Homo sapiens: one gene and its partners. The protein of the gene in region 2 interacts with the protein of the main gene of each other region in a biochemical or structural test. Each region holds a gene or a part of one and is shown on either strand. Other genes may lie near its edges. The genes, in order: ABL1, CASP9, ARNT and MAPK1.

The links.
Region 1: the proteins of CASP9 (region 2) and ABL1 form a complex in vitro, tested with the Homo sapiens proteins (one study listed by BioGRID).
Region 3: the proteins of CASP9 (region 2) and ARNT form a complex in vitro, tested with the Homo sapiens proteins (one study listed by BioGRID).
Region 4: of the proteins of CASP9 (region 2) and MAPK1, one has a biochemical effect on the other in vitro, tested with the Homo sapiens proteins (one study listed by BioGRID).

The regions. Positions count from the first base shown.
Region 1 is NC_000009.12:130,839,243-130,847,095, reverse strand, and holds part of ABL1 (tyrosine-protein kinase ABL1), read right to left. Parts: intron 1-7,853. UniProt on the Homo sapiens protein: Non-receptor tyrosine-protein kinase that plays a role in many key processes linked to cell growth and survival such as cytoskeleton remodeling in response to extracellular stimuli, cell motility and adhesion, receptor endocytosis, autophagy, DNA damage response and apoptosis.
Region 2 is NC_000001.11:15,497,505-15,505,357, forward strand, and holds part of CASP9 (caspase-9 isoform alpha precursor), read right to left. Parts: intron 7,255-7,853; coding exon 7,107-7,254; intron 1-7,106. UniProt on the Homo sapiens protein: Involved in the activation cascade of caspases responsible for apoptosis execution. Binding of caspase-9 to Apaf-1 leads to activation of the protease which then cleaves and activates effector caspases caspase-3 (CASP3) or caspase-7 (CASP7).
Region 3 is NC_000001.11:150,829,128-150,836,980, forward strand, and holds part of ARNT (aryl hydrocarbon receptor nuclear translocator), read right to left. Parts: intron 7,367-7,853; coding exon 7,153-7,366; intron 5,514-7,152; coding exon 5,411-5,513; intron 3,273-5,410; coding exon 3,207-3,272; intron 2,777-3,206; coding exon 2,691-2,776; intron 854-2,690; coding exon 777-853; intron 101-776; coding exon 1-100. UniProt on the Homo sapiens protein: Required for activity of the AHR. Upon ligand binding, AHR translocates into the nucleus, where it heterodimerizes with ARNT and induces transcription by binding to xenobiotic response elements (XRE).
Region 4 is NC_000022.11:21,855,973-21,863,825, forward strand, and holds part of MAPK1 (mitogen-activated protein kinase 1), read right to left. Parts: intron 1-7,853. UniProt on the Homo sapiens protein: Serine/threonine kinase which acts as an essential component of the MAP kinase signal transduction pathway. MAPK1/ERK2 and MAPK3/ERK1 are the 2 MAPKs which play an important role in the MAPK/ERK cascade.

The DNA of each region.
Region 1 (7,853 bases), on a different chromosome or scaffold from region 2:
ATTAGCTAGTTGAGCACCGAGAACAGTAATACATCTAAAAAATGCCTCAAACCTCTAAAAAGCTCTGGCTCTGTCTATGACAGTATAAAATTATTTGGAAATTTTATAAGAACCAGGCCACAGAATTCACTGGATCTGTGCATGATTAACTTGTTTAGACAGTATTCTAAGAAAATGGTTTGGGTCTTTAAAGTAAAATTGAAAGATCGTTTTATATAAAAATAATCCTTTCTCAAAGCTGTGAGTCACTGATGAAAAATGTTTACAAAAGATTCTCGGACATGGCATATCTGGCCTAGACTTCCAGGGGCTGCTGGTGCTGTGCCAGACGCTGGCGAACAGTCAGGGAAGGGAAATGCCCATGAACCCCAGTACCGGCTACTTCACAGCCCAAGGGGGGACTTGACCTCCAGGAAAAACATCCCCGGGAAGCTTCCCACCTTCCTGCTGGCACTTGTGCCCAACATCATAGTTCCCACTAGAGTGCAAGGCGGCCAGCTATGGAGCATTCATTACTGTTCACACTGTGGGCTCTCCGGAAGGTTCTTGGAGACGGTTCAGTGTGGGGGGGACAGGAGGATGGAGCATGTCAGACGTGACAAACGTTCCCTTTAATTTTGCTCACATTCAATTATTTAAACTTGTGCTGCTTTATTCATATTTCCTTTGTGGGTCCTTCGCTATTATCCTCCAGTTCAAGGAATCTCTGTAATTTAAAAATCTATAAAACAGATCCTTCTAAAAAGAGGCTTCGTGTTTTATTTCATACTCCGTTCCAGCGGATGAGATCATGCTCAGACTATTCTCAAGTTATTTTATAACAGTCTCAAACAACTTTTCAAAATATGAGCTTAGAGGAAAAGTATTATTTCCCACATTTTGAGCTTGATGAAAGTCATTTTATCTATTTCTACATGGTCCTTTATTTTGTAATTTACACCTTCACCCAGAGAAGTTAAAATTATTAAAACACACACACACACAAGCACACACACACACACACACACACACACAGACATACGTTTAACTGAACACAGCCTTTGTGTTATCTTCAAATCCCAAAACACTGTGTCAGCTGCTAGGGTGCAGGGAGGGGCAGGGCAGTGGGGGAAAGACGTAAAGAACCAGCAGTAGCCCCGCTCCTTGGAGAAACACAGCTGCTGAAAACTTACAGACTCAACAGCAAAAGTCTAACGGAAGGCCAGCGCTGTCCTGTGGATGAATTTTTTTTTTTTTAGATAGAGTTTTGCTCTTGTTGCCCGGGTTGGAATGCAATGGTGCATTTACAGAGGATTGCAAAGGAGAACAGTCCTCAAAAGACTTTTTGAAACAGTCCTCAAAAGACTTTTAAAAACTTGTAATATAGCTCTTATTAATGCCTTAAATAACTGTCTCTTTATTCGCACATTAAATAACAAGGTCCAGTGGCAACTATGTCATTTCAAAGTAGTGGTGCGAACAATGATCACAACCGTCACCTGATATCAAACACCTGGTTTCTGGCCAGGTGTGGTGGCTCACTCCTGTAATCCCAGCACTTTGGGAGGTCGTCTCTACTAAACCACGTCTCTACTAAAAATACAACAATTAGCTGGGCGTGGTGGTGCACATCTGCAGTCCCAGCTACTCGGGAGGCTGAGGCAGGGGTTTCGCTTGAACCCGGAAGGTGGAGGTTGCAGTGAGCCAAGATTGCATCACCACGCTCCAGCCTGGGCAACAGAGCTCGACTCTGTCTAAAAAAAAAAAAAGAAAGGTTAAGATTTGGACTGTTGATGGGGATAGGAGTTAGGATGGAGAATTTTGTTTCTTAAAAATTGTCTGGCTAAGACATTGTCATGTAAAAGATTCCAGGGGAAATATTTAAACCTTGGACTAATTAAATAACTTTATTTTTAAAGGAGGTTTCTCTAGAAACTCATTTAATCTACTGCCTATAATGGCTACAAGTGGAAAGTAATAAAACTGCATTTATTTTAAAAGAAAATTGCATAATTTGGACCTCTCACTAATTTATCCCAGTCTCCTTTTTAGGCTCTTCCTGTGAGAATGCTGAGGTTTTACTGAGCCAATTCCTTAGTGCAGGACTTGTTAACCTGGAAGACCCTGGGAGTCTGGGATAGAATTCAAGGGCTCCATGTCCTCTGATGGGAAAAATTAAAATTTTATTTCACTAACCTCTTACTAAAATGTAGCATTTAATTTTTTTAAGAACACAGGTAACAAACCAGAGTAGAAGTACAGTGCCTGTGACTGTCTCTGGTAGAAACTAGGTATTTCTTTTTTTGTTTGGTGGGGAAACCGAGTTTCACTCTTGTCATTCAGGCTGGAGTGCGGTGGCGCGATCTTGGCTCACTTCAACCTCCGCCTCCCGGGTTCAAGTGAGTCTCCTGCCTCAACCTCCTGAGTAGCTAGGATTACAGGCGCCTACCACCATGCCCAGCTAATTTTTATATCTTTAGTAAAGACGGGGTTTCACCATGTTGGCCAGGCTGGTCTTGAACTCCTGACCTCAAGTGATCTGCCTGCCTTGGCCTCAAATATTAACCTTTCTGAAGATACACAGTCCCTGTCCCCCTCCCTCAACCAAAAAGGAAAAAAAAAAAATTGTGTCACCTTCCAAGAATCTACGGTGAAAAAGTCTCCAATTACTGGAAATGGAGTACAAAGACACTCATAAATAGAGATGCCACTATCTTCAAGGCCATTCTGAACACCTGCCATTGACGCCCATATCAGGACTGAGGCTGGAAGTCATCCTCTGTCAGTTCCCACCCTGCATCTTGGCACTTTTCCTCCTCAATCTCTCATCACTTCTGTCCTTTCCATGCTCTACCACGCCCTTGGCTGGGTCCCCCTTTGGCCATTCCACCTCCACTCCCTACTATCAGGGCCATCTTTCTCAAATGCAGACCTGACCAGGTCACTCTCTTGCTTCAAATCCCTTAGAGATGGCTGCCAGCCGAGAGGCAGAAGAGAGCATGGGCTTGGGAGGTGGCCCTGTCTCCCAATGGTCAGCTACCACTTACTGGCAGTGTCATCGGGGGCAATGCTGGGATCATGATGTGCTTTGCAGGGTAGCTGGCAGTTTGCAGCTAACATGGGACATGTTTTTGAGGGCCTAGGCATGCACAGGCCCTCAAAAAATGGCTGGGGTTGTTATTCCTTCCACCACTATAGTAAAAGTCTGAGCTCCTGAAGCAGGCATGCCAGGCTCTTCAGGGTTGAGACTGGGAGCATCTGGCCCTCTACTCCTGCTTTCCATTCCAGCCTCTCCAAACTCCTTTCAGATCCCCCAGGCCTCCTGTTGCTTGCCTCTCCTGACTGCACTGTGACAAGTGCCATTTACTCTCCCTAGAGTTCGTTCCCCAGCCTCTTCTGCTCTTCCTGGCCTCCCCATCTCCCATAAACCTTCTCTAACCGGTCCTTCCTCCTCCCCATCACCTCGCCCACAACAGGATGCTTCTCCTTTAACCCATTTGGGTACCTGGTGTCTGTCTCTATCACCACCCTGCATCTATCACCCAGTAAGCAATCTGTTCACATGTCCCCAGCAGTACAAAAAGCATGGGCTCTGGGTGGACAGGCCTTGTTCAAACCTCAGCACCAGCATGTCTTGAAGACATTTGTTTCTGAGCCTCAGTTTCTCAACTGCACAACAGGGCAACAACGGCATGGCATCAACCTAGTTGGGCTGTCGGGAGGGCTCAATGAATCCTGCATGCAGAGAATTTCTGCATGGATGCCAACTGTGGCACCTGACACTGGGATGCTCACTACAGAACAACCGCGTCTTCTCTTATGCCACGCCTTCTCTTCTGCCACCACAACAATGTAAACTCCTCTGGGGTAGAGACCAAGTCTCTCATATCTCAGAGCCTTCTGTGCCTGCTCAGTGCAACGCAACAACACAGCACTGCTGGGTGAACTCAGATGTGGAACACCCTGCACTTGTCTGTCTTTAGCTACAAGGTACTGAAAAGTGCAGTTTAATAATCTGTTAACCTGTAATAAGAGCAGCAATAATGACAGATAGTAAAGTTGAAAAACAAATGCAACCTGACCAGGAAAACCTATATAAAAGCCTAGGGAACATAATGATTTGTTTTGACTGAAATATAAACCATGGCCAAAATCCTAAAGGTATAATGTAAAAACACAGTTCTCTGTGCTTTCAAAAGAAATAGGATTTGCTCCAGATTCCTAACAGACACCACAGTGAGCTCGCCGGACACCTTCCCAACAGGTTCCAGGAATCCCTGCAGTGGCCGCAGATCCAGACTGTCCACAGTCAGCCTGCTAATACCCACAAAGGCATTTTTATTGTCACAGGCCATTTGCAACAGACTGAAAGGCCTCCCCTTCTGCTGCCAGCCATGGCTGGTTTGAAAGCATTCACATTTCCTCTTCTTTTAACATGTCTTCATGGACTCCGGGGTCAGCTGACACCAGAGGCACTGGGCTACCCAATGACAGGCAATTTCCCCAGAAAGCCTTGTTAGCCATTAGTATTTTTATTGCTGATCTGGGTAAATGAACATGACCCTCCCCACCCTCATGGTATTTTGGCTTCAAAAAGCAATGCCTAATTGTATTCACGGCCTGTCTTTAAATACAATTTTAAGGTATTCAATGAACAACGCTATTAGCTAAATTTGAGGGCTTGTAAGACAGATAAAGACTAGGTTTCTATAGAGAATTTAAGAGTAATGAGGTTAAAGTTTATGCAACTTAATGTGATAGAATAATAGCTAATACTTACTGATCCCGTATCAAGTGCCAGCACTTCATCTGCACTGAATCCCTATAACCTTATTACGTAGACTCTATTATGAAGGCATTTGAGGGCAGGAAATGGAAACAGAGAGATGTGAAGTTACTGATGGCCTCTCTCTCCAGCTACCCATCCATACATCAGCTGCCTGTCCATCATCTGTCTCCTGCGCTTCTCTTGCTCTCACTCATTCTCTCTCTGTACCCACCCACCCCAGCCCCACTGGCCATCCTATTCCTCTTTGTCTCCCTTCTCTCAGTCTTCCTTCCCTCCCAGCTTGTTTTTTTTTCCCTTTCCTGTCTCAACCTTTTTGTATTTGTCTCTCAGTCTCTGTCTCTATAGATTTCCCCCTTATGTCTCCCCTTCCTCCCTCCCTCTCTCTCTCTCTATCTCCTTCCCACCTATTTCTCTCTGTCTTCCCTATCACCAGTACTCAACACACGCAATATAACAAAAATATTTATGGTGTAACATGGTAAAGAAAGAAGGATTTGAAAACCAACTTTTTTTTTTGAGCTGGAGTTTTTGCTCGTTGCCCAGGCTGGAGTACAATGGTGAGATCGCGGCTCACTGCAACCTCTGCCTCCCAGGTTCAAGTAATTCTCCTGCCTTAGCCTCCTGAGTAGCTGGGATTACAGGCACTCCCCACTACGCCTGGCTAATTTTTTATATTTTTAGTAGAGACAGGGTTTCAGCATGTTGGCCAGGCTGGTCTCGAACTCCTGACCTCAGGTGACCACCTGCCTCGGCCTCCCAAAGTGCTGGGATTACAGGCGTCAGCCACCGCGCCCGGCCTGAAAACCAATTTCTAGAGCAAGCTTGTTCAACCCATGGCCCACGGGCTGCATATGGCCCAGGACGGCTTTGAATGTGGCCTAACAAATTTGCAAACTTTCTTAAAAACATTATAAGATTTTTGGCCCGGTGCAGTGGCTCACGCCTGTAATCCCAGGGCTTTGGGAGGCCGAGGTGGGCGGATCACGAGGTCAGGAGATGGAGACCATCCTGGCTAACATGGTGAAACCCCCGGGCGCCTGTAGTACCCTCTACTAGGGAGGCTGAGGCAGGAGAATGGCGTGAACCCAGGAGGCGGAGCTTGCAGTGAGCTGAGATCGTGCAACTGCACTCCAGTCTGGGCGACAGAGTGAGACTCTTGTCTCAAAAAAAAAAAGAAATGAGATTTTTGTGGGATTTGTTTTGTTGGTTTAGCTCATCAGCTATCGTTAGTATGTTTTACGTGTGGCCCAAGACAATTTTTCTCCCAATGTGGCCCAGGGAAGCCAAGATTGGACACCCCTGTTCCAGAGTAACGATTCTACCCATCTGAGGACAAAGTTACACTATCAAAACTAAGTAATTATAATTAGCAAGCTATTCTTCCTAATGGCTTTGAAACTGTAACTTTATTATGTAAGAAAACAAGACTGACTATAAGCTGATAATTGTTAAAGCCACATCATAAGTACATGGGAGTTCATTATGCTGTCTACTTTTGAGACAGTTTTAGGCTGGGTGCAGTGGCTCATGCCTGTAATCCCAGCACTTTGGGAGGCTGAGGTGGGAGGATTGCTTGAGCCCAGGAGTTTGAGACCAGCCTGGGCGACATAGTGAGACCCATCTCTATTTTTTTTAATTAAAAAAGAGATAGTTTTAAAAATTGACACTAAAAAAGAACAAACAAACCTATGAATTTATTTTATAAATTGTTCTTCTGTGTGTTTAATTAAGATCCACCATTATGGAGGAAAAGTTAAAGTCTTCCAATATCCCATTTGATCTTTAGTTCTTATGTATTTAAGAAAGCTACCCATTGATTTATTTTCTGCTTTTATTTCAGATCAATGATTATACTGGCACAATTACAATGACTTGATTTTACAAGGTGGTAAGTGGCACCAGATTTTCAGTTTTCACGTTTGAGGCTGTGGAAATATTGTCTCTGGACAGGAGAAATAAAATGCCAACCATGAGCCAATGGGAATTTCTCTTCCACAATGAAAATATTCACTACGGGAATAACAGAGGGTGCGAGGAAGAGAAGACATTTTTCAGCCAAAAATCAAGGACAGGAAGTATTAATTATACGCATCAAAACACACTTAGAAACAAACTGCTTTATTAGCAAGAAAAACTATGGGTGGGATTGGCTGAATTCTGTCATCACTTCAACCATTACAGAAACTGGTAAAGCCACCATTTTAGGCTGCTAAATATTTGCTTAAAGTAACAACAGCTTACTTTTCTGCTAGGCTCTTGTTCTGTGCCAGGCTCCCTGCTAAACAATTTACATGAAGTCTCTCAACAACTCAGTGAGGTAGGGATTACTACAGGCCTTATTTTAGAAATGGGAACACCAAGGTACAGTGAGCCTCGGTGAATGCGCAAGACCAGCCAAGAGCACAGGTGGCATTTGGGTCCAGACTGGCTGGCTCGGGAGCTGCCTGCCTGTGCAGAAGAATGAGACCCTAGGAACGCTGTGTGAGCCATAAACCTGCCTGGACTAAAGAGCATCTCAGAGGAATCTCGTATCAACATAACACAAACATACATTTAACTCTTACCAGTTTCAGAGCTTTCCCTCAATCATCTTATAGACCCTCAAAACAATCCTCTAAGGTGGCTGAACAGAGATTGGTCTCTCTGTCTTAGAGGTAAAAACACGGAAGCTCAGAGAGGTCAGAGGAAAACTGGGATCTCCTGCCTCCAAATTGAAAAGTACTGCCACCTAAACTGGGGCCCTTCCTCTTTTCTAGAAACCTCAGGGCACTGGTGTGAAAATTAAGTGAGGCTGCACATGATGTGCTCAGTGCCAGGGCCTGTGACATTGTAAATGGTCAACAATGTTAATAGCACCCAAAATGAAATGGACAGACTGGCCTTTTATTAGGTAACAGAAAGAGTCTCACTTTCTTTGTTACTGAACAAGGGAAGTATCTGATGACCTCAGGAGAGAGCAGAAAGCAAGCATAAGCTTCTCCAAAGCTCAAGTTCTAAAAGCGTATCTGTATGGCTGGCACCACATGAAGCATCCGCTGGAAAGTTAGCTGCTGAAAAGAAGCATTTAAAAGTGGGCCCTTAAAAT
Region 2 (7,853 bases):
TGGTGGCGTGTGCCTGTAATCCCAGCTACTCAGGAGGCTGAAGCAGGAGAATTGCTTGAACCAGGGAGTCAGAGGTTGCAGTGAGCCGAGATGGCGCCACAGTCCTCCAGTCTGACAACAGAGCGAGACTCTGTCTCAAGAAAAAAAAAAAAAAGATATAAATAAATGGAAATATATCCTATGTTCATGGATTAGAAAACTTAAAGATCTCAATACTACCCAAAGCAATCCATAGATTAAATGTAATCCCTATCAAAACCCCAATGATGTTTTTTGCAGAAATAGAAAATCTATCCTAAAATTCACACGAGAATCTCAAGGGACCCCAAATAGACAAAACAATCTGGAAAAAGAGCAAAATTGGAGGACTCACACTTCCTGATTTCAAAACTTACTACAAAGCTACAGTAATCAAAACAGTATGGTACTGGCATAAAGACAGACATAGGTCAATGTCATTGAATAGAGCCCAGACATACACCCTCACATGCGTGGTCAAATGAATTTTGAAAAGGGTGGCAGGACCATTCAGTGGGGAGAGGGCAGTGGTTTTTTGTTTTGTTTTGGGGGATTGTTTTTTGTTTTTGTTTTTGTTTTTTGAGAGAGTCTCATTCTGTCACCCAGGCTGGAGTGCAGTGGTGCAATCACAGCTCACTGCAGCCTTGACCTGCCAGGCTCAAGTGATCCCCCACCTCAGCCTCTCAAGTAGCTGGGACTACAGGTGCCACCACACCCAGTTAATTTTTGTATTTTTTGTAGAGACAGGATCTTGCCATGTTGCCCGGGCTGGTCTCAAACTCCTGGGCTCAAGCAATCTGCCTGCCTTGGCCTCCCAAAGTGCTGGGATTACAGGCATTTTTTTTTTTAAGAGACACACTTTTGCTCTGTTGCCCAGATTGAAGTGGCATGATCTTAACTCGCTCCAGCCTCAAACTCCTGAGCTCAAGCAATCACCCCAAAAAAATGGTTAAGATAGTAAATTTTATGTTATATGTATTTTGCCACAATTTTTAAAAAGACATAAAACTTGTCTTTTTTTAGAAATATAGTTGAGGAAACTGTCCACTATATCATAGGCACTCACTCAAACCCTTTACTCAGGCTGTCAAGATCACAGTGTCCCCTTTAAGACAACCAAGGGAAGAAATGTGTCTGGAGTCTCTATTCCTGACTTCTGTCTTGCAAATACCAGATATAGAACTATAGAACACCAGATTCCATGGATCTTGAAAGTGATCTTTTTTTTTTTTTTTTTTTTTTTTTGAGACAGAGTCTCGCTCTGTCATCCAGGCTGGAATGCAGTGGCGCGATGGCTCACTGCAAGCTTCGCCTCCTGGGTTCAAGCGATTCTCCTGTCTCAGCCTCCCAAGTAGCTGGGACTACAGGCGTGTGCCACCACACCTGGCTAATTATTTGTAGAGATGGGGCTTCACTGTGTTAGCCAGGATGGTCTTGATCTCCTGACCTCGTGATCTGCCCGCCTCAGCCTCCCAAAGTGCTGGGATGACAGGCGTGAGCCACCGCCCCTGGCCAATGATCTTATTTCCAATGGCGGCTGGAAAGCGTAAAAAATGCGCAGGCCACCTCTAGCAAGTAGCTATCAGTATTCCATTTTATGTAATTAGGCAACTGAGACTGAGATAAGTTAAGGGGTTTCCCCCCAGACAGAGGCTGACTGGGACTTTGACCTACCTCATTTTTGAGTCTACTATTACCAATGGCTGGGATTTTTCCATGTTTCTTTACATCTGCAAAGTGATTTTATCTCTAAAATCAGTCGTTGTATACCTTAAATTTTTAATTCACTTGTACATTAGAGAACTGTAGAAAGCTGCAGGACATCCTAGGATGTATTTTTGGAATCCAAACTTTTACTTTTCTTCTCTCCTTGTGTTCCCTCTCTATTTTGTCCTAGTGTTATCATTTGTACTTCTTGCACTATGGCAAATCCTTTTCTAGAATCAAAGAAGCCATCAGAAAAATACCAAATAGACACCAAGTCATGGATAATGAAATCCATGGAGATGTTTACACCTTCTAATCCAGTAATTTCCTAAGAAAATAATTCAAATGCAGTCAAAAGCTTTCTATATGAAGACACCTGTGGTTGTGTGAGCCAAAAATTAGATATCACCTAAATGGCCGACATTAGGAAAATGGTTTAGTAAATTAGTGCATGTCATGAAAATGGCCCATTATAAAGCCATTTGAGCTAGTGATGATGAAGGCCATGGAGATCTGGGGAACTGCTTAAGGGATAACGTTAGCTGAGAAAAGCAGACTGTGCTCATGGGCTGGAATCCAAAAGGAAGATGCAAAAATGAGATGGCTGTATTAGCTTATAACATTCTGAATTATTTTCTTTTTTAGGTTGCCATATTTTTTGTCTTTTCCATTTTAAAATCTAGACTCCCCAAAGGCAGTGCCAAGCTTGGAAAACAGAGAGGTCCTGGCAGGACTTGTGCCCCACATGGCTCAGCTACAGAGCTACTGAAGTGGAGACACTGACGGAGGTCTTCCGGGATGAGGTCTTCTGCAGTAGGGCTCATGGTGGGTGGGGTAAGGCGGAGCACAGAGGGCTACTCAGGAAAGAAGGCATCTAACAAGAGCTTTGGTTAAAAAATATAAATATATATTTAACTATGTATACATACTGCAGAAAAAAAAAGAGAAATTTTTTTAAAAATAGGCTGAAGTTGGAGTAGGAGTGATCCAGAGGGTCCCCTGCAAAAACACTCCTGGAGAATGTGACTGTGATCCAGGCCCTGATGCCATCAGGGAGAACGGTCCTGGTGAGAGAGACAGCAAGTGCTGTGGCCGCAACGCAGGCAGGTTTGCATGGCTGGATCTATGTGACTGAGGGAAGTCACAGTTCACCCAGAGGAGCTGGGGGCCCATCTGGCAGGAACAGAGGTGGCTCTGGCAACCCCATAATAGTAACACCAAAATCTATTGACCTCTTACCCCACACAGCTAAAGCTCAGAAACCACTGGTCATTGGCATTCTCCCAGCTGATATGAGGGGCGCGGAATTCTGCCCCATGTTTTTTGCCTCTCAACTATCCCACTGCTTCTCACGGAGGCCCCCAGCCTCCAAAGGGGGGCCTCTTTGATCTGTGACAGCCATGTTTTTCTCCAGATTTTGTGGTTCATTGCTTCTGGTTGTTTTCTTGGTAGAGACTCCGGAATCTGCCCCAGGTGTCTGGGAATGACGTGAAACAGCACAGCAAGGAGGCCTGAGGCGTGAATGTGATGGTGCTGGGTCTGCCTGGCAGCCTGTGGGGGCGGAGGGATGCCTAAGTGGGGGATGCCGTTAAGAATGGCCAGAAGAGACAGGGTGAGCAGAGAGGCTGAGAAGAGACAGCAGATCAGAGCAGGGGGTGTGGGGGAAAGGAAAGAGGGGGTCAGGCGGGGCGCTAAGGCAGCTCCGTTCACGTGTCAGCCTCAGCCCACAAATCTGATGTGAAGGCCTTGCCTAGGGTGTTCTGCACTGTATGCATGGCTTGGTTCTTGGAGAGCCTCGGTTCTTAGAGAGCCTCATTAATGCAAAACTCCCCGTAGGGCAGGACTCATTCCCCACAAGAATAAATATACAGTAGGAGGAGATGTTCCCTCCGCACAGAAAATCCACGACCACTGCAGCATATTGTCATTGCTTTCTGTCTTCTCAGCCCGATCTCTCAAATCCCAAAGAGGGGTCACCCCAAAATTGACGGCTCAGCCTCAGAGAGGTGGCTACTTGGTTGCCTATCACGCTGACGTTGCACACCAAAGTTATCGACTTTAATGCACATTTTTCAGCCCTGGTGCTGTTACCTCCTAATGAATGGGTGGATGACATGTTGGAGGGTTTTAAAATTATTATTTAAAAATGATTTTTAAATTATTTATTATTATATTTAAATTAATTATTAAATGATTTTTAAATTAAATATTTTTAAAGTATTATAGTGAGTTATAAAATAGCAATACAAGAGTCCTCAAAACCCAGGACAGGTGTTCTGATGCATGTAAACAGACCCCTCGCCAGGCACTAGTGAAGAACGGGGACCTTTCTATTTCTGCTCTCAGCTGACGTGGCGCCACCATGTGGTAACTGCGTTAAGCACCAGGTCACGCAGCCTGCGGAGGCAAAGCAAGGACCCGACTCCAAAGGGATATCTTAATCACTGCATGCTGGCTTTGAAATCTTGCTGTTTTCTGTGAGTTTTGTTTTAATGATGGAAATCTACATTATGCCAAATTTGGCTCATATTTTTTTTTTATTTTTTATTTTTTTAGAGACAGGTGACAGACTGGCTCTGTCACTCAGGCCGGAGTGCAATAGTGTAAACATGGCTCACTGTAGCCTCGACCTCCAGGGCTCAAGCGATCTTCCTGCCTAAACATCCCAAGTAGCTGGGACCATAGGCACACACCACCAGGCCTGGCTAATGTTTTAAATTTTATGATAGAGACTGGTCTCAAACTCCTCGTCTCAAGAGATCCTCCCACCTTGGCCTCCCAAACTGTTGGGATTACAGGCGTGAACCACCACAGATGCTTTTGTATGGTTCTCCTTTACATTCAAATTAGAATCCACATGAGACGCAACCAGACTGTGGGCTCTGTGCCAGGCTGGGGGCCTGGCTGCAGGGTAGGCCTGGCCCTCCCCTCAGAGCTGACCAGGGGATAAGCCCATCTCAATACAATGAGACAGTGCTATGGTAGGGGAGGGACAGAGGCTGCAGGAGCACAAAGGCCAGCTAACCCTGACTTTGGCCAAGAAAGGGGGTGTTTAGGGAAGTGACAATAAATTGTAACCAGAAGGATGGATGATTAAGAGTCAGCCAGGTGCCAGGCACGGTGGCTCATGCCTGTTATCCCAGCACTTTGGGAGGCGGAGGTGGGAGTATCACTTGAACCCAACAGTTCAAGACTAGCCTGGGCAATATAGTGAGACCCCCATCTCTAAAACAAAATAAGTAAAAATGAATTTTAAAAAAAGAGTTAGCCAGGGGAGCAGGTAGAAGAGCAAGCAAGAGCCTGGACATCCTGGGAAGGCTGGGCCGTGCTGGGGACTCGGAGCATGCCAGGCTGGGGAAGGTGAAGTGGCAGGGGCCAGGTCACCAAAGGCCTTGGAAGCCCTGCTACTGAGTCCTAAGAGTGACAGCAGATATTCACGTGACAAAGGCCCTCCCTGCTGTTGAGACTGAGACTGGATGGGGCATGGGAGGAGCACAAGACTGACTAACTGTCCAGAAAGTAGGTATGCCTGCTCAGCCTGCATTCCTAATTCCCCTGCCCTTTCTGTCTTTCATTTGATTCATAGGAGAAAGAGGGACCGGAGGCTCCGAAGGAAGAGCATTGCTGGACCACACACTGTGGATAAGACAGGAGGTGAGGCAGAGCAGGGTTTCTACAGCCCCGAGAGTGGCAGCCTTCCTCACTTCCTGTTACTGTTGTCCTGAGGGAACTCTGCTGGCGACAGCGGGGTGGGGGACTCTTATGTGACACTGGGTCCTCCGGGGTGGGAGCGGGGGGCAGGCTGGGTTTTCAGTTATTAAAATGAACCAATCACTGTACACACACCAATTAGTGCATTAAATATTATTAAAGTTGCCTGGGCACAGTGGCTCACGCCTGTAATCCCAGCACTTTGGGAGGCCGAAGTGAGCAGATTGCTTGAACCCAGGAGTTCAAGACCAGCCTGGGCAACATGGCAAAACCCTGTCTCTACAAAAAAAAAATAGAAAAATTAGCTGGGCATGGTAGTGTGCACCTGTAGCCCCAGCTACTCAGGAGGCTGAGGTGGGAGGATCACCTGAGCTTGGGAGTGGGTTCTGTTATTTTCCCCATTTGCTGAGCTGTCTAGAGATGAACTGGCCCAGGGCTGTGTGATAGATAGGTCAGTAGCCCATCCAGGGTTAATCAAGTGTTCTCAATCACTTGTGGTCAAGTTATGGGCATGGGTCATGACAGTGACTTAATACAGTTCATGTCAAATTATAAATTCCAGGAGACTGAAACTCTGTTTTTCCCCTATCCCCAGCACCTAACGCACAGCCTGGTATATACAGATGGTGCTCAATAAACACTTACTGGATGAATGATGTGACCAGAGACTGCTCTCCTAGGTAGCCTCCACCCAACTCCACCAACGTGGAATAGGGATGGGGCAGTTGGATGTGCACAGGAGAAATAGACCACAGGTGCCCATGTCACAGCTGGACGAGCTGGACAGCGCTATGGTATAACAGTGCTCACTTCTCTGGCAGATCAGGCTGGAGGCAAGGAACTGATATACCTTCTGAATGTTCCAGTCCGTGGAGAGCCTAGGGCAGAGGGGACTCCCTGGGACAGAATTTCTAGCGCTCCCTGATATTCCTGTCATGACCCACAAACTAGGAACCCCATGTTTGTCTCTCTTCCCTCTTTTTTTATAAGAAAATCAGATAACACTGTAATAGGAGTTAAGTTTAAAATTAGAGCATACAGCAAAACTACAAAGAATCCAAGTAATACATTTAAAAAACAAAACAAAAATAGAGACAGGGTCTCGCTGTGTTGCCCAGGCTGGTCTCGAACTCCTGGCTCAAGCAATCCTCCTGCCTCGGCCTCCCAAAGTGTTGGGCATGAGACACTGCACCCAGCCCAAGTAATCTTTAAATGTTCCTCGAACCCCCACAACTACACTTTTGAAAATTCCAATATTTAAATTCTTTGGTTTCTCCATGCAGTTTAGCTGTGGCCACCCTTTCTCTGGGATAGTGGAAACGGGGTCTAGTTGATGGAGGTCAGGAGAATGGTGACAAGAAAAATAAAAAGAGGTTTCTCCTCTCTCTTCTGCTTTCTTTTTGCCAAGTCTTTGGAATTGAAGCTGCCAAAGTTACTTGAGCCCATGATGCCACTGTGCCATGAAACAGAAGACTCTGACCTCTACAAAGCAGACAGAGCAGGGCCTGCTCCAGCCAGACAGAGGTGCTGCCAAAAAGGGACCATGTGTGGTACCCTCTGACTGCCTGGAGAGACCTCATGGGCCCTGTGAGGGGCAGGCTGGAGAAAGAAGCAGGTGGCGGCTCCCTCCCCACCAGACCCACCCAGAGGGAGGCTGAGGAGCTGCTTACCCCCACCACAGGCCTGGATGAAAAAGAGCTTGGGCTTCCCTCCCAGGCTGGGGCAGCTGGTCCCATTGAAGATGTTCACAATCTTCTCGACCGACACAGGGCATCCATCTGTGCCGTAGACAGCCCCTGGGAACTGCAGGTGGCTGGCCTAGAAGACCAAGAACCCTGGTTACAAAACCAAGAAGTTGGAGTAGGAATCCAACAGCCTGTTCAGAGGTTTTGTGGGAGCCAAGGATTTGGAAGGTCAAAGCCAGGGGCACGAGGCTGATTGAGACAGAGCAGGTTGGTTCTGGAAAGACCCTGGTCAGCATCTGGAAAGACACCTTGACAGCAAGGGGTTGCATGTCAAACTCATGTGCCTCTAGGGGCCAGTGTGCCTGGAGAGTGCTGGCTGCGGCCTCTAGACCAGTGGTTCTCAAAGTTTGGCCCCTGCAGCAGCGGCATCAATATCGCTTGGGAACTTGTAAGAAATGTGATTCCTGGGCCCCACCCAGACCTCCTAATCAGCAGTATGGTCCTCCAGGCCCCTCTGACTGAGGCAGCTCAACGCTGAGAGTGGCTGCTTTAAATCAGTTCAGCTCAGACCTCAAGGGCATGGAAATCACCTGGAAACCTTGTTGCTGGGCGGACTTGGAATGAAGAGGTCCAGGGTAGGGCCTGGGAGTCCACATTCTTCATGAGCTCTAGGGACCATATTATGAGAGAAAGGACCAAAGGGAAAGCCCTGCCCAGCCACAGGCTGGAGTT
Region 3 (7,853 bases), about 140 Mb from region 2:
GATCCACAAAAGTGAAGATACCCTCAATGTTGTGTCGGGAGATGAACTCTGTTGGTTGACAAACATTACTCATGTCTGTACAGTTGGGAGAACTAGTTACCTGAGAGTGAAGAGATAAAAATGAGGTAAAATGATACCATTATTTACAGATGTATTTCCTATCTCCTCATGGTCTTTTGCATAGACATAAGATTCCCAGTTTTAGGACTTTCTAAACTTTCACATTTTATCCAAAAAGGAAAAAAAAATGACAATCACAATCAGACAAGGCATAAGGTCTAGCTCTGCTCCCATACATTTACACTTTACCAAGTTAGTAAAGTAAGAATAAAGTTTATTCAATCTAAAATCCACATACTGGCTATGCTGAACTCATTACTCAGGTTGATATGGTACAAGTAACCAAGAAACTTATCTATACTTATGAAAAAATCAAAATAATTCCACTTTTCTATTGTTAGTCAGGTAATGATACAATGAAAAGGATCTTTCTTCTTTTGTATAGGGGCAAAGGAAATTAACTGGAAATAGAAAATTAAGCATAGTAAAGCTAAAATTAAGACAAGGGGAAAAAGATCTCCCTCCTCTCATACTTTTCAACTTTACTTAAATCCAAGAATAGCAATGGTCACTATAAATGCCATATTCCTTCAAATTTTGAGAGTTTTATGGAATTCTTCATTTGTATTCAGAAAGTAAAAGAAAATTAACAGGAATGAGTCCTGAAGATCTGCTCTAATTGAACGGGAATATAGATGTGGAAAATTCATACTTGCCTGCAATCTGCCAATGGCCACTAGGCAAAACTTGCTTCCCTGGCCAGCCTCTGGGTCATCATCTGGGAGGGAAACACCTTCAGAAACGTGACGTTAAAAGGTTTAACGGGGACCTCCAACTCAAATGCCTTCAAAACTCAGACAAGTAAAGATTCAAAATAGACCTATTTATGGGCCAGGCACCGTGGCTGACGCCTGTAATCCCAACACTTTGGGAAGCCAAGGTGGGCGGATCACTTGAGGACCAGCCTGGCCGACACAGTGAAACCCCATCTCTACTAAAAATACAAAAATTAGCCAGGCATGGTGGCATGCACCTGTAATCCCAGCTACTTGGGAGGCTGAGGTGAGAGAATCACTTGAACCCAGGAGGCGGAGGATGCAGTGAGCCGAGATCGCACTACTGCACTCCAGCCTGGGCGACAGACAGAGTGAGACTCCCTCTCAAAAAAAAAACCAAAAAGCAAAACAAAACAAAATACATCTAGTTATGAAGAGGCTAAGCATAAAGCAATAGAGAATGATAAATAAGAATAAACAAGTATATAAAACTTACCATATATGCCAGTCATTGTTTTAAGTATTTACATATATATTAATTCCTACATTTTACCCATGTTAATTATAGTAAACTGGAAAATACAAGTCCTACCCAGAGTACTCTAAAAAACTATGCTGGCCAAATATGGCACATATGAAGACATCCATTCTATGACCATGTTATAGGCAGAAAATTTATGCTTTGCCTAATCTGTAACTTTTAAAGTTAGCAAGCAACCCAAAATGAAGTTATACCAACCATCAATAGTTATTCATGTCCCTTGGAAAAGAGAAAAACCAATGTTTTACACAGAAAGGGAAGAAGACTGCATTTCTCCCCTGTTTTTTGCATAGTTATACTCTTTTTATCCAGAAAAATAGTATTCCTTGATGCTACATAGAGGTATGAAAGATCACATACTTTAACTGTGTGGCTTATATAGTATATAGACTAAGTAGTTCAAATGTCATTACTACTTCAGTTAAATTTTTTTAAATTACATTAATTACTTTTATTGGGTTACCTGCCATATGCCAGGCACTGGGCTGGATGCTTTCCTTACATTAAATCTAATCCTCACAAAAACCCTATACAGGATGTACTAACTCTGAATTACAGATGAGAAAACTGAGCTTTATAAAGGTCAAGCAACTTACCCTAGGTGATGCCACTAATAAGTAACAATGACAGGAATCACATCCAGGTTTCTCCACATCCAAAGTTTAACCTTTTTCCAAAACACATCACCTTGCTTCTCTTTTCTCTTAGTTTCTGTCTCCCCAAAACCCCTACTTTCCAATAATACCCAGGCAGCAGGGAAGTAATAAAGTTGCTAAGATTTGGAAACTCTGACAAGCCAACTTAAAACTTTGATCCTGCAACCCAATCACCTTTCTCACATTCCTTGTTTGACCTCAAGTTCTGGTAAAGCTAATCTGCTCAAAGCTTGATTTAAAGTCTTTGCAGAGAATATCCTCTTGATAAGTTATTACAATAAAGGCATTTTCCCCTTTTCTCTCAAAGTCTTGTTCCTACTTTAGAAATCTTTCTCAAATTAACTGCATTCAATGTCTAAGTTTCTTTGCAACAAATGCTTAGAATACATATGTTCAGTATAAATTTGTTCACATAAAAACCACATTCTGTGACACAGCCAATACTGAATCATTTTCCAGCCTGAGTTATCTATCTCCTCAACTGGAATAAAAGCTCAATAATGGAAGGGAAGGATTGTACATTTTCTTTTCCTATTTTCTTTCATCTTACACAAAAGTACATTTCATATACCAGGTATATAATAAATATTAGCTTTCATGGACTCTGTGAGGAACCAACTGTACCAAGGGGAAATATTTACTATTTCACTTTCTTACCTGCTGGGGGCCAGGCCTTGATGTAGCCTGTGCAGTGGACCACCACGAAGTGAGGTTCCCCATCCTTTACAGAGCCAAGTCCATTCCTAGAAGAGTTACAGGAGTTTGAAAAAAAAAAAAAAAATCTACCCGTAAAACTCAAAGGGCAATGCTGCCTTAGTACTTTTAAGTTTATGCTCTTAGGAGTTTAGAAAACAGGATAATCATCTTTCCCACCCAAAAATGACCGCCACATTTTTACCCTTGCCAAAGTAAAGTAACCAAAAGGTATGCAGTAGGAGGAAAGTAGGTAAAATAGCATAGCGACTTCCTTAAACAGGATTTTCAAGAGAAGTTTTAGAAGTTTAGGAAAATATTGCCAGAAAAAAAGTAAGTGGGAGGTAAGGGATGTTAAGTGGGAGGTAAGGGATGCAAGTGAGAGCTGCTGAAGGAACGACTACAGTAAGACAGGTAAAAATGTGATGATCTCTGCAGGTATTTGGCCATCCCTTTGGTTTTCACCACTTAGGATCTCACCTGCATCTGTTCCTCACAAAGCTCAGCCTATTCACAGAAACTGGGTCCACAGAGCTACTGCCACACCTGTTTCAAGGAATAAAGAGATTAAAAGCAATCAGACTGCCCTATCAAAGAACTTTCCACAGTAATAGCAGAATAACATGCTCTGGATACAACCAGACATAGAAAATTGGTAATGCTACTAATAATGAAGGATAAAGATAGGTCAAGTTTAGTATTTCTAAAACTTTTAGAATTTGAAGTCAAAATGTTCCATATGTTCTTCATATGCAAACATTCTCAACATCAAGAGTTGGCAAGCTTTTTCTGTAAAGGACCAGATAGTACATATTTTCAGCTTTGCGGGCCAGAAAGTCTGTTGCAACTAGTCAACTCTAGCATTATAGCATGAAAATAGCCATAGATAATATGTAAAAATATGGGCATGGCTATGTTCCAATAAAACTTTATTTACAAATAAAGGGCTGTGGTTTGCTTACTCCTGCTCTACATTAACCACAACTTAATGTAATTGCTACAGTTCATTATTATCTTGCTCTTGCCTATGTCTTTGCATTAGCCATGTCCACATATTGGGATACTCCTGCCAATGCTACTTTCCCTCTCCCTATCCTTTAAAACAAAAATAAAACTTACATAGGGTTAATATGTGTCATGCTCTGTTCTAAATATCTTTACATATATTAATTCATCTAATCTTCATAACAACTTTATAAAGTCAGTATTAACATTATCGCCAATGTGAGATGATGAAATCAAAGCACAATGTAGTCATGTAATCATCCAAGGTTTCAGAAGATAGCATCAAAGCTAGAATTCAAATCCATAGAATATGGATTAAAACAAAATCCAGCAGTCTGGGTCTAGAAGCTACTCTAAATTACACGCTGGGTGCAGTGGTTCAGGCCTGTAATCTCAGCACTTTGGGAGGCTGACGCAGGCGAATCACTTGAGGTCAAGAGTTTGAGGCCAGCCTGGCCAACATGGTGAAACACTGTTTTACTAAAAATACAAAAATTAGCCAGCTGTGGTGGCAATCCAGCTACTCAGGAAACTGAGGCATGAGAATCGCTTGAACCCAGGAGGTAGAGGTTGTAATGACCCAAGATCATGCCACTGCACTCCAGCCTGGGCAACAGAGCAAGACTCTGTCTCAAAAAAATAAATAAATAAAAATAAAAATAAATCACTAAACCACATAATGTTCAATTTTGTGCCTCTCCAAGCAAACCTTTAATATCCTACCCATAATTTCTAGCAACTATCCTCTCAGTACAATGTAGTCAATTTCCATTATATAGCCTGAACTTTGTGACCCTGAGATGCCTTTTGTACCTGTATAGAAAGGACCACCATATTTTCTACAGAATCCTAAAACGTACAGTATATAATTTATAAACACTAAACACCTACTGAAAGACATAGGAAGTCTCAAATTTCTAACCAAAAAAAAAAAGAAGAAATGGTCTGAGTAAATGGATATTGCCTTGTGTTGTAACAGGGAAAAAGTAGAGGTTTTGTAGTCAGACTACTATGAATTAAAACAAAATCCTGTATCAAACAGTATGTAACAGTGGGAAATTCATTTCTTTTTCTTTTTCTTTTTTTTTTTTTTGAGACAGAGTTTCACTCTTTTTGCCTAGGCTGGAGTGTAATGGCACAATCTCGGCTCACTGCAACCTCCACCTCCTGGGTTCAAGCAATTGTCCTGCCTCAGCCTCCAAGTGGCTGGGATTATGGGCGCACGCCACCACGCCCGTCTAATTTTGTTGTTGTTTTTTTTTAGTAGAGATGGGGTTTCACCATGTTGGCCAGGCTGGTCTCAAACTCCTGACCTCAGGTGATCCACTCGCCTCAGCCTCCTAAAGTGCTGGGATTACAGCCTTGAGCCACTGCACCTGGCCAAGTTCATTTCTTTATATCTGTTTTTCCATCTGCAAAATGGTAACCATCAATCTTACACTACAAGGCAATTGTGAGGATAAAATAAGATGACAGATATAAAGCACCTATCATAGTGTCTGGCAAGTTCAGAAACGTTAGTTCCCTTTCCAAATACTTTATTCTGTGTTACAATCCATCTGGGTATGGAGAGTTAAATTTAATCCACTGGAGCTAATCCAACTTAACTCTGACAGAAATAAAACTCTCAGCTCTTGATCCTTCCTATACCAAATCACAATCCTCAGCTTGACACTCACCTCATTCGGCAAATAAACGATCTCCTTGAGCCCATACACATTCTCATGGAAGACTGCTGACCTTCCTTTTTCACTGTTCCAGTCTTTAGATCCAGGATACGCCCTGAAGGAAGATGTGAAGAGCAGTCTGGAGTGCATTTTTGTGTGTGGGGAAGAGGGGGAGAGATACTGAAGGCAAAGATAAGTAAGCATCCTATTCATGCCCTTAATCTCCTTGCTTATAACAGAACTGACCAAGCAGGAGATGAATTTTTTTTCAAGCCTAAAATACTTCAATTATCATCAATGAATCTCACTCTTAAGTTCAAAGGCAGCATTGAAAATAACATTGTGCAAGGAAAAGTAGGAGTGGAAAGTAGTAGTAGAAAACAAGAGGCAAGGCTATATTCTCATAGCTGATTATCTGTATACACATACAGACATACATACAGAGTAAATGTCATTGGTTGAAAAACAAGTACTTTTCTGTAGTCCCAGCTAATCAGGAGGCTGAGGCAGGAGGACTGCTTGAGGGCAGGAGTTTGAGGCTGTAGTGTGCTATGACTGTGCCTGTGAAGAGTCACTGTACTCTAGCCTCAGCAATAAAGCAAGACCTTGTCTCAAAAAAAAAAAAAAGAATAAAAAGAAAAAATTTTAAAAAGAAAAAAACCAAGTAATTTTATATGTTATAGAAACATATAGATCTGTTTGTCTTCTTTATTATACAGAAACGAAGAACAACTTTTGGGGAAAAGGAAGAACTAGAAAAATGAAATCATAAAAACATAAAGGAGGGGAAAACTGGTCAAGTGTGGTGGCTCATGCCGATAATCCCAGCCCTTTGAGAAGCCAAGATGGGAGGAGGAATGCTGAAGGCCAGGAGTTTGAGACCAGTCTGGGCAACAGACAGAACCTGTCTCTACAAAAAATTTAAAAATTGGTCAAGTGTGGTGACATGAACTACTCCTAGCTACTCAAGAAGCTGTAAGCAGGCAGATTACTGAGCCCAGAAGAGTTCAAGATTACAGTAAGCTATGATGTGCCACCGTACTCCAGCCTAGGCAAGAGAGAGACCCTGTCTCTTTTTTGGGTGGGAAAAAAGGAGGAAAACTAAAGATCAACAACACTAATATGAGTATATTGAAATTTCTTGCATTTTAACTACCAGTTTTTTTATCTGCTTCCACTTTAAATTTTTTTCTAGAGTTGCTCAAGAATAGATATGACTTGTTTCCTCTAGCCAAACTCTGGCCAAAAGACTGAACATAATAAAATAGGGGAGAAAAAAAGAACAACAGTACAGATACAAACAACAACAACAACAACAACAGAAAACACCTTATACATTGACCAATAACCATATCTATAGAATAAAAAGCTGTTATCATTGAACCTAGCACAAAGCCAAGCACCAGGAGGTAGAAAAAATACCAGATAATTATCCATACAAATGAGATAAAAACATGGATAATTCTTTTAGAACGGAAAAAAAAAAGTATTGTAGGTTTGGCTTTTACTGTTCTATTTATACCAATATTAAGATAAATGTAAAATATTATCACCAATGAAATATTTTCTAAGGCTGAGCCACAAAGTAGATAATCTCATATGGATAAAAAGAACTGACTATATTCATTAAAGTAGAAAATTCTTGAAGCCTTGCCAGAGTCAACAAACCAATTTAACAGCTAAAACATCTCTTAAGTCTCAGGAAAAAAACAAGAAAGGACTTCTCATTCATTTCCCATACACATAACTCTCACCTGTCAGGGCATTTTCTGAAGTGGAAAGCTGCTCACGAAGTTTATCCACATCATCTGGGTGCACCTGATCATAGAGTGTGCTGCCAAACCATTCAGACTGTGGCTGGTTCAAAACAGGAGTCACGGAGTCAGACACATACACCACCCTGCCTGTCTCACATGAGACAATAAACAGAAAGCCATCTGCTGCCTCCAAGATCAAATGTTTCAGTTCCTGCGCAAGAAAAAGAAATAGAAGTTAATATTTTACTCTGAAAAAACAAGTATTTCTATTCACAGGAAGAAGTAAGACACTTCAGGCCACATGCATCTCTCCGTAAGCAACTGCTGGTTCACACCTGATCCACAGCCACAGGTTTCCACCCTAAATGTAGTTCATCGATAAGAAAGTTTTTTCTAATACATGTTTCCTCACTTTCTCTATGTCACTATCCACCTCTTCCTCTCTATCTCAGGATTCAAGAAGAATAAAAAGGCTTGGGCTAGGCACAGCGGCTCCCGCCGGTAATCCCAGCACTTTGGGAGGTCAAAGTGGGAGGGTCACTGAGTCCAGGAGTTCAAGACCAGCCTAGGCAATGGGGCGAAACTCCATCTTTACAAACAAACAAAACAAAACAAAACAAAAACAAAAACAAAACTAGCCAGGTGTGGTGGCACACGCCTGTAGTCCCAGCTACTCCGGAGGCTGAGGTGGGAGGATC
Region 4 (7,853 bases), on a different chromosome or scaffold from region 2:
AGCTGCCTTTCACAGCTTCCCACAAATTTCAACACATCCTCACTCAAGTACGTTTCTGAAAGGGACTCACCGACAACTCTTTAGAGAAAAGGAACTATATCTCAAACCATAGGAAAAGTTCTATATCTAGCTTATCAAACTTTTAGTCTCTGAAGCATGTGAGAGTAAGTTTGCCAGTATTTCTTTCTCATTATCCCCCAATACTTTAGTGACTATTTCCAACAAACAAAACTAGACTATTCTCCCATACAAACAAAATGCTACCATCAAAATCGTCAACGCTCACCTGTCAGATTATGACCAAAGGCCTCTAAGTCAGAATCCCGCCCAGGCAAAATGACATGGCAGCCAACTGTGGAGCCTCGGTTGGCCTCGGATAGCTGGTCCCCCCTTCATTCACACCACATATCTGAGGACCAGATATGGAAAGCCTCTCATGCTGGAAAACTTGGCACAGTAGAAAGGCGGCCACACTTTTGCCCGTCACACAATGCACATTCACGGGGGACCTGTGCTAAACCATTCACAGACAACCTGTTTCTGGGTCAGGGTTTCGTATACAGCAGAGCAGTCAGCTATCGACACAAGGGTTTGTAACAAAAAACAAAAAACAACAAAAAAAAGGAAGGACAAACCAAAACAAAAAAGAAAATACCAAAAAAAAGAAGAGTTAAAAAAAAAAGAAGATAAAAATAAAATCATTAACACAGATACACGACTACAATCTAATTTTCAGACATTCTAGTTTTGCCAATCATGCCGATTCAGAATCATGAACCACATGGAGTTGCCATGTTTCTGCACACTTCTTTAGTGTGGAACAATTCCTCAGTGTTTTCTTGGTTCCATGATCTTGACTTAATTTTGAGGTTTACAGGCCAGTTATTTTGCAGAATATCCCTAAACTCGGGTTACCTTGATGTTGCCTCCTGAAGATTTGGATTATGCATGAAACACTTGACTGTCCCTATTCTAACTATATAAAGATGCTCCTTGACTTACTATGGACTTACATCCCAATAAACCCTTCATAAATGGAAAACCTCATAAGGTGAAATGCTTGTTTTTTTTGGGAAAGTTTCTTGCTCTGTTGCCAGGCGGGAATGCGGTGACACGACGACGGCTCACTGTAGCCTTGACCACTCAGGTTCAAGCGATCCTCAGCCCCAGGCTCCCAAGTAGCTGGGACTATAGGCACGTACCACCACACCTGGCTAATTTTTTTTTTTTTTAATTTTTAGTACCTTTAGTACAGAAAAGGCCTCACTATGTTGCCTAGATTGGTCTCAAACTCCTAAGCTCAAGGAATCCTCATGCCTCGGTCTCCCAAAGTCCTGGGATTATAGGCATGAGTCCTGCACCCAGCCTAGCTGAAAATACATTTAATACACCTAACTTACCAAACATCACAGCTTAGCTTAGCCTACCTTAAACATGTTCAGAGCACTTACATTAGCCTACAGTTGGGCAAAATCATCTAACGCAAAGCCCATTTTATAATAAAAGTGTTGAGTAACTCATATGATGTATGAAATACTATACTGAAAATGAAAAACAGAACAGTTGCGTGGGTACTCGGAAGTAAGGTTTCTACTGCATGTGTATCACTTCCATACCATTGTAAAGTCATCTGACCACCAAGCCAAATATTTGTACTTCTGCACATGCTGCTTTACATAGAGACCGAGACAAAGGGGGATTCACATCTTGTCAACCCTGTTTACTTCAAAGGAATAACAGAGCATTAACTAGGTACCAAGTGCTCAGGACTTCAAGTATACTGTTTTATTTAATACTCATGACAATCCTTTGACCCCTTACTTGTGACTGGCAAGTTACCCAACTTTTGTTTCATTTTCCTCATCTGTAAAAACCGGAGAGTGATACACACTCCCTGGAGAATGACAGGGAAAACAGTACCAAGAACTTTAACCTAACAAGTCAGAAATCAATGAGACCCCTTTTGACAATTCCCACCTTGCCCTTTAGACATTCCGAGATATGCAGCTTTATTTAATAAATGACCCCACCTTGGGCCTCAGCTGACTAGACCAGAGGCAGACACTCTCCCAGGCTGGAAAGGCCAGGTGGAGTGAGCTGTTCTGTGCAGAATGATCTCCCTAACAGTGTTTTTACACATTCTGTTCCACTTGGAATTGGATTCAGAGTGTTCTCAGCCTCTGGTCATCAAAAAACCTGAAGACACATACCTTCAGGGAGCTAGGGTCAGCTCTCCTCTGCTGAGTGCATGGGGAAGTGACAAAAGAGAAAAGAGGGGGGAAAATCCAGCTGCTGAGAGATGTAGGGTACAAGAAGCTTTTGTAACTGTAAAGAGGGAGGGAGGTAGCTACGTTGGTCTATTTTCCAGTTCCTGGTTCCAACTATACCTAAAGCTTTAACTGCACTTTCTATCCTTGCAGTAATATGACAAAGGCCCCCAGATCTTAATCATAAACTTTTCATTTTCTATAATGCAGTCTCTACAAAGTAGTGCCTAAAACATTCCAGCACTCTACCCTACCTTTTACCCAGCTAGCTCTAAGTCTTCCTTCAGGTCCCAGCTTAAACACCACTTCCTCCCGGAAACCCTTCATGACTACTCAGAATATCTTATATCATCCAGTGGCACTCCACACCTCACCATACTCAGTAAATGTTATTACTGCCCTGTTGGACTGTAAACACCAAAGAGTAAGAACAACTTTTGTTCACTACTTTGTTCCTACTGCCTAGCACATAATCCGGTACGTGTTTAATAATATTAAATGAATGAAAATCAAGAAACTGGTAGAGGTAACTAGAAGGAATGGGAAGAAATCAATACTGCTTCCTGATAAAAATTAAGTTGCTAGATGACAGATCCTTTGGAGATAAAGAAAAAACAAAAACAAAAAACAAAGTTACTTTAACTCTAATCCTTTCTAGCCTCTTCTTCAGGTCTGTCTGCAATGGCATAATCATTTTATACTTTAGGGCTAATCCATTCAGGAACCCAGGCTGTAGGAAGTACGTTTCTAGGTAACTCGGTATAACAGAGAAAAGCCTATAGTAGTTAAAAGAAAAAAGGTCACAGGATTTGGGGTCTGCATAAATCTCAATTTACATCTCAGTTCTGCAATATACTTACTGGCTGTGAACCCTGAACGAGTTACCTGACACCCAGTTCCCTTATGTGTAAAGTGCAAAATATAATACCTCAAAGACAAGGATGACGGTCAGGCGCGGTGGCTCACACCTGTAATCCCAGCACTCTGGGAGGCTGAGGCGAATGGATCACGAGGTCAGGAGTTCAAGACCAGCCTGGGCAACAGGGTGAAAGCCCATCTCTACTAAAAACTACAAAAAAAAAAAAAAACTTAGCCAGGTACAGTGGCAGGCACCTGTAATCCTAGCTACTCAGGAGGCTGAGACAGGAGAACTGCTTGAACCTGGGGGCAGAGGTTGCAGTGAGCCAAGATCGCGCCACTGCACTCCAGCCTGGGCAACAGAGTGAGACTCTGTCTCAAAAAAAAAAAAAAAAAAAAAGACAAGAATGAGAATGAAGCTTAAACCAGCAAGGCAGGCTTGCAACTAACATTAGTCAGTTGATCATGGCATATTATCCATGCAGACACCTGCTATCCAGCTCCTACTGGCCATAGGTTCAAACCCCAGGGCCTGCCTTGAGTCTGAGAATCTGGGAGGGACCTTGGAGACCATCTATCCTGTGGGTTGCCCAACATCATTTTCAAAGCAATCAAATCCTTTTTCCAAATGGGATCTTGCCCTGCTAACCCTAATAGTTACTACCTATGTGAACTGAAGATGATAATGACTAAAAGGAAATTAAGAAAAAGAAAAAAGACTAAGGGCAGAGGAAGAAGGGAAACGGGAGGGGAAGGAGGTAGATAAGAGAAGAGCAAAGAATAGAAAAAACAGGGATTAGGGGAGAGAATGCTGTATGTGAAGTTTCCCTATTTGGGGTGAGGCCTGAAGCCCCTAAGAGAGGAGGAGATTTGAAAACCACAGACAGAGCCCAGTCCTTTCATGTTATAGCAGGGGAAATAGAAACACATAAATTTTGTTCAGCTGCCTATAGCTTTCTCCTCCTGTGGTTCTGCTCAGTTTCCAGAAAGCCTGGGTAACGTCTGAATCCTCCTGGAATCTCTCTTCTTCCTTCTGGTACGGTGTGGGCCATTTCAAAGCTCAGGCAGGTGGCCTTTCCTAGAGGGAGCAGAGACAGCGCAGCTACTGGATGAGCTCCTAGGCACCTTTCAGTGTGGGAGCCTCAAGAAGTGAAAGAAAAAAAGCAAATCTAAAGGGGAGCAAAATAGCATCTCAGGATTAGGCAAGAGGGTGGGTGGAGTAGGCCGGAGGCAAGGAGCTCTAGATGTTTGTTGGGGAATGAGGTGTTTTTCAATTAATAGGTATATAAATTGTGAGCAAGGTGAGGAATAAATTACATACAGTTTTGGGGAAAAGTCAACTTGAATTTACACAAATCAGATTATGGGAATGGTGTAATGGTTATAGCTAACTACCAGGAATACATCATTAGGGATGCTATTAATATAAAAATTAATTTTGTTTTGACTTATCCTTTTACTCTAAACTCTGCTCAGAAACACTAGATTCTTCTGTTACTCATGTAAGCTGCTGTCCTTGCATCTTTGAGCTCCAAAAGTGTAGAGGAGACTTCTTGATTAAAAAAGTTAAGTAAACAATGAGCAAGCAAAATTAAGAATCTCAATATCTCTGTCTCCAGGTCTAGAGTTTTTATATATGATATATGTTATTGCTGTTCCTGCCTTTCAAACAGGTGGTACAAACACCCAGCAGAGATCCATGAAGAGAGTGCATTAACAGGAAGCAATAGGGCAAAGTTCATAGAGATGAGCTTTAGAGAAAAGCGGGACTTAAATAGAGCCTGATGTTTCTTGGGGCAGGCTGGGGTGCTGTACTATGGGCATCTTGGCAGGATGATTCTCCAGTGGAGGGAGTGTACCGTGCAATCCAGACCATTTAGCATGTCTGCCCTTGACATGCCTACTGACGGCCAATAACACCCCCTAATCAACGTGACAACACAACAAAAAGCCGCCCCCCTATACATTTCCAAATGCCTCTGTAGCAGGGAGGTAAAATCACCCCCACTGAGTACCACGAGATAAAGTAGGCACAATGCGGCCAGGTGCAATGGCTCACGCCTGTAATCCCAGCACTTTGGGAGGCCGAGGCAGGTGGATCACCTGAGGTCAGGAGTTTGAGACCAGCCTGGACAACATGGCGAAATCCTGTCTCTACTAAAAATACAAAAATTAGCCAGGCATGGTAGCACACACCTGTAATCCCAGCCACTCAGGAGGCTGAGGCAGAATTGCTTGAACCCAGGAGGCAAGGTTGCAGTGAGCCTCCAAGCAAAACTCTGTCTCAAAAAAAAAGTAAGTAAGTAGGCAAAATGGGCAGAAAGCATAAGAGATAAAGTGGGAGTGGAACTGGCAGACAGAAACAGGGCCATCCTTTAATGACTCCGTCACCCACAAGATCAAGTCCAAAGTCCTTACCAAATAATGCCCTTCAGGATTTGGCCCTGCCTACCCCCAGCTGTCTCAACTCCCACCTTCTTACTAAGGCACCCTACACTCCAGCCTTCCCAAGTAATTTGTGGTTTTCCTGACCTGATGCACTGTGTTCACGGTCTGTGCCTTTACATGCACACTTCGCTTTGCCTAGAAGGCATTTCTCAAGGCAAACTCCTACTCACACATCAACACCTAGCTCAGAAGTCTGGGAAGCCAAAGAAAGACAGCCCCAAGTCACTCAGCTCTTCTCTTCCTCTCAGCACTTCACAAACTCCTGGGTAACACTGGTATCTTCTCTGTATTATTCCCCAATTCCATCCCATTATTTGGATGAAGAGTTCAATAAACATTTTCTGAGTAAATAACTCTACATGAAAGGTTTTAAAGGCTAAAAAGTGATACAAGCAAAAGCAGACAACAGATATTTCTTGTTACTGAAATAATCTATTTTCTCAACTCTGATCTTTGGTGGAGCACTACTTAGGAACCAGAAAAACTGGGGTTGCTTCATCACTTCCTAGCTGTGTGTCATTGGGCAAGTTAACTAACCTCTGTGTGCCTCAAGTTTCTTCACTTGTGGGGTAAAAAACAAACAGAAGTTACCACTTTTGCTGTACAGTTATATGGCTTAGCATTAATGTATGTAAAATACAAAACAAGAGTGCTGAAAAAGTGGTAGTTCTACTAGTCTGCTATAATCACAATAACCTTAACAAGACAGGAGGACATTGTACCATCAGGAATGTGATCACAATGAAATTTTAGTTGAAACCATCCCCCTCTTTTTTCTTTTATTCATTCAGCTTTCCCAAGTTGAACATCCCCGCTTTAAAAAAAAAAAAAAAGAGGCCAGGCACAGTGGTTCACACTGTAATCCTAGCACTTTGGGAGGCTGAAGCAGGGGGATCACCTGAGGTCAGGAGTTTGAGACCAGCCTGGCCAACATGGCAATACCCCGTCTCTACTAAAAATAAAAAAATTAGCCGGGTGTGGTGGCACACACCTGTAATCCTAGCTACTCGGGAGGCTGAGGCAAGAGAATCACTTGAACCCAGGAGGCGGAGGTTGCAGTGAGCCGAGATTGTGCAACTGCACTCCAGCCTGGGCGACAGAACAAGACTCTGTCTCAAAAAAAAAAAGAGCTGAAAGTCAACAAATATAATGGCTTGTCAGCTGCATTCTGTTTCCCTCCTATAGTACTCAATACCAATCCCTTAATGAGTACCATCTCCCTTGGCTCCTTTGATAACGTGCACTCCCAGTTCTTTGGTCTCTCTGGCCACATTTCCTCTGTCCTCTTCCATAACTTGACCTTTATTGACACAGTAAAGGCAGGCACTCCTTTGGCTTAGTTCTCAGATGTCTTATCCACTCTTAAGGCTTCAATTAATATCTCTATGAAGATGACCCCATGAGCTCTCTTGTCGCATTCAGAAACAGCATTTCAAACTCAATTAAACCAAAATAGACACTTGCTATCTTAGTCTAAGATGACCAAGCATACTAAGAGTGTTTCAATCTCTCCTCCTCTCCCTCCTCCCCGTCTACACTGTTCCCTTATACATCTGACCAGTCATCAGTTTCCTCTTCTTTGCCAGAGTTACCTGGTTGGTCCTCTGTTCTACTTCAGTGGTTCTTAATGTTTCCAGGATAATGGACTCATTTGAAAATCTATCAAATGCTATGTATTTTTTAACCAAAAAGATAAATATAGAAAACATATAATTACAATTTCTTTTTTTTTTTTTTTTGAGACCCAGTCTTGCTCTGTCACCCAGGCTGGAGTACAGTGGCGCGATCTTGGCTCACTGCAAGCTCTGCCTCCCGGGTTCACACCATTCTCCTGCCTCAGCCTCCCCAGCAGCTGAGACTACAGGCGCACACCGCCACGGCCGGCTACTTTTTTTTTTTGTATTTTTAGTAGAGATAGGGTTTCACCATGTTAGCCAGGATGGTCTCGATCTCCTAACCTCGTGATCCGCCCACCTGGGCCTCCCAAAGTGCTGGGATTATAGGCGTGAGCCACCGCGCCTGGCCATGATTGCAATTTCACCTAACCAATGACCCAGATAAGAATCTGTGCTCATCCACTCAAGATTTTAACTACCATTTACACAAATTTTCATCTCCAGCTCCTGCTCCCCTCTTACAAATTTTAAGATGGTTTCTGGATATAGCCTGAATGGCCTACAGGCATTACAAACTTAAGTTCAAACCAGAACTATTTCCCCCTGACAAATCTGCTCTAACAGTATTCCTTTACTTGGATAATGGCACCACCATCTCCCAGGC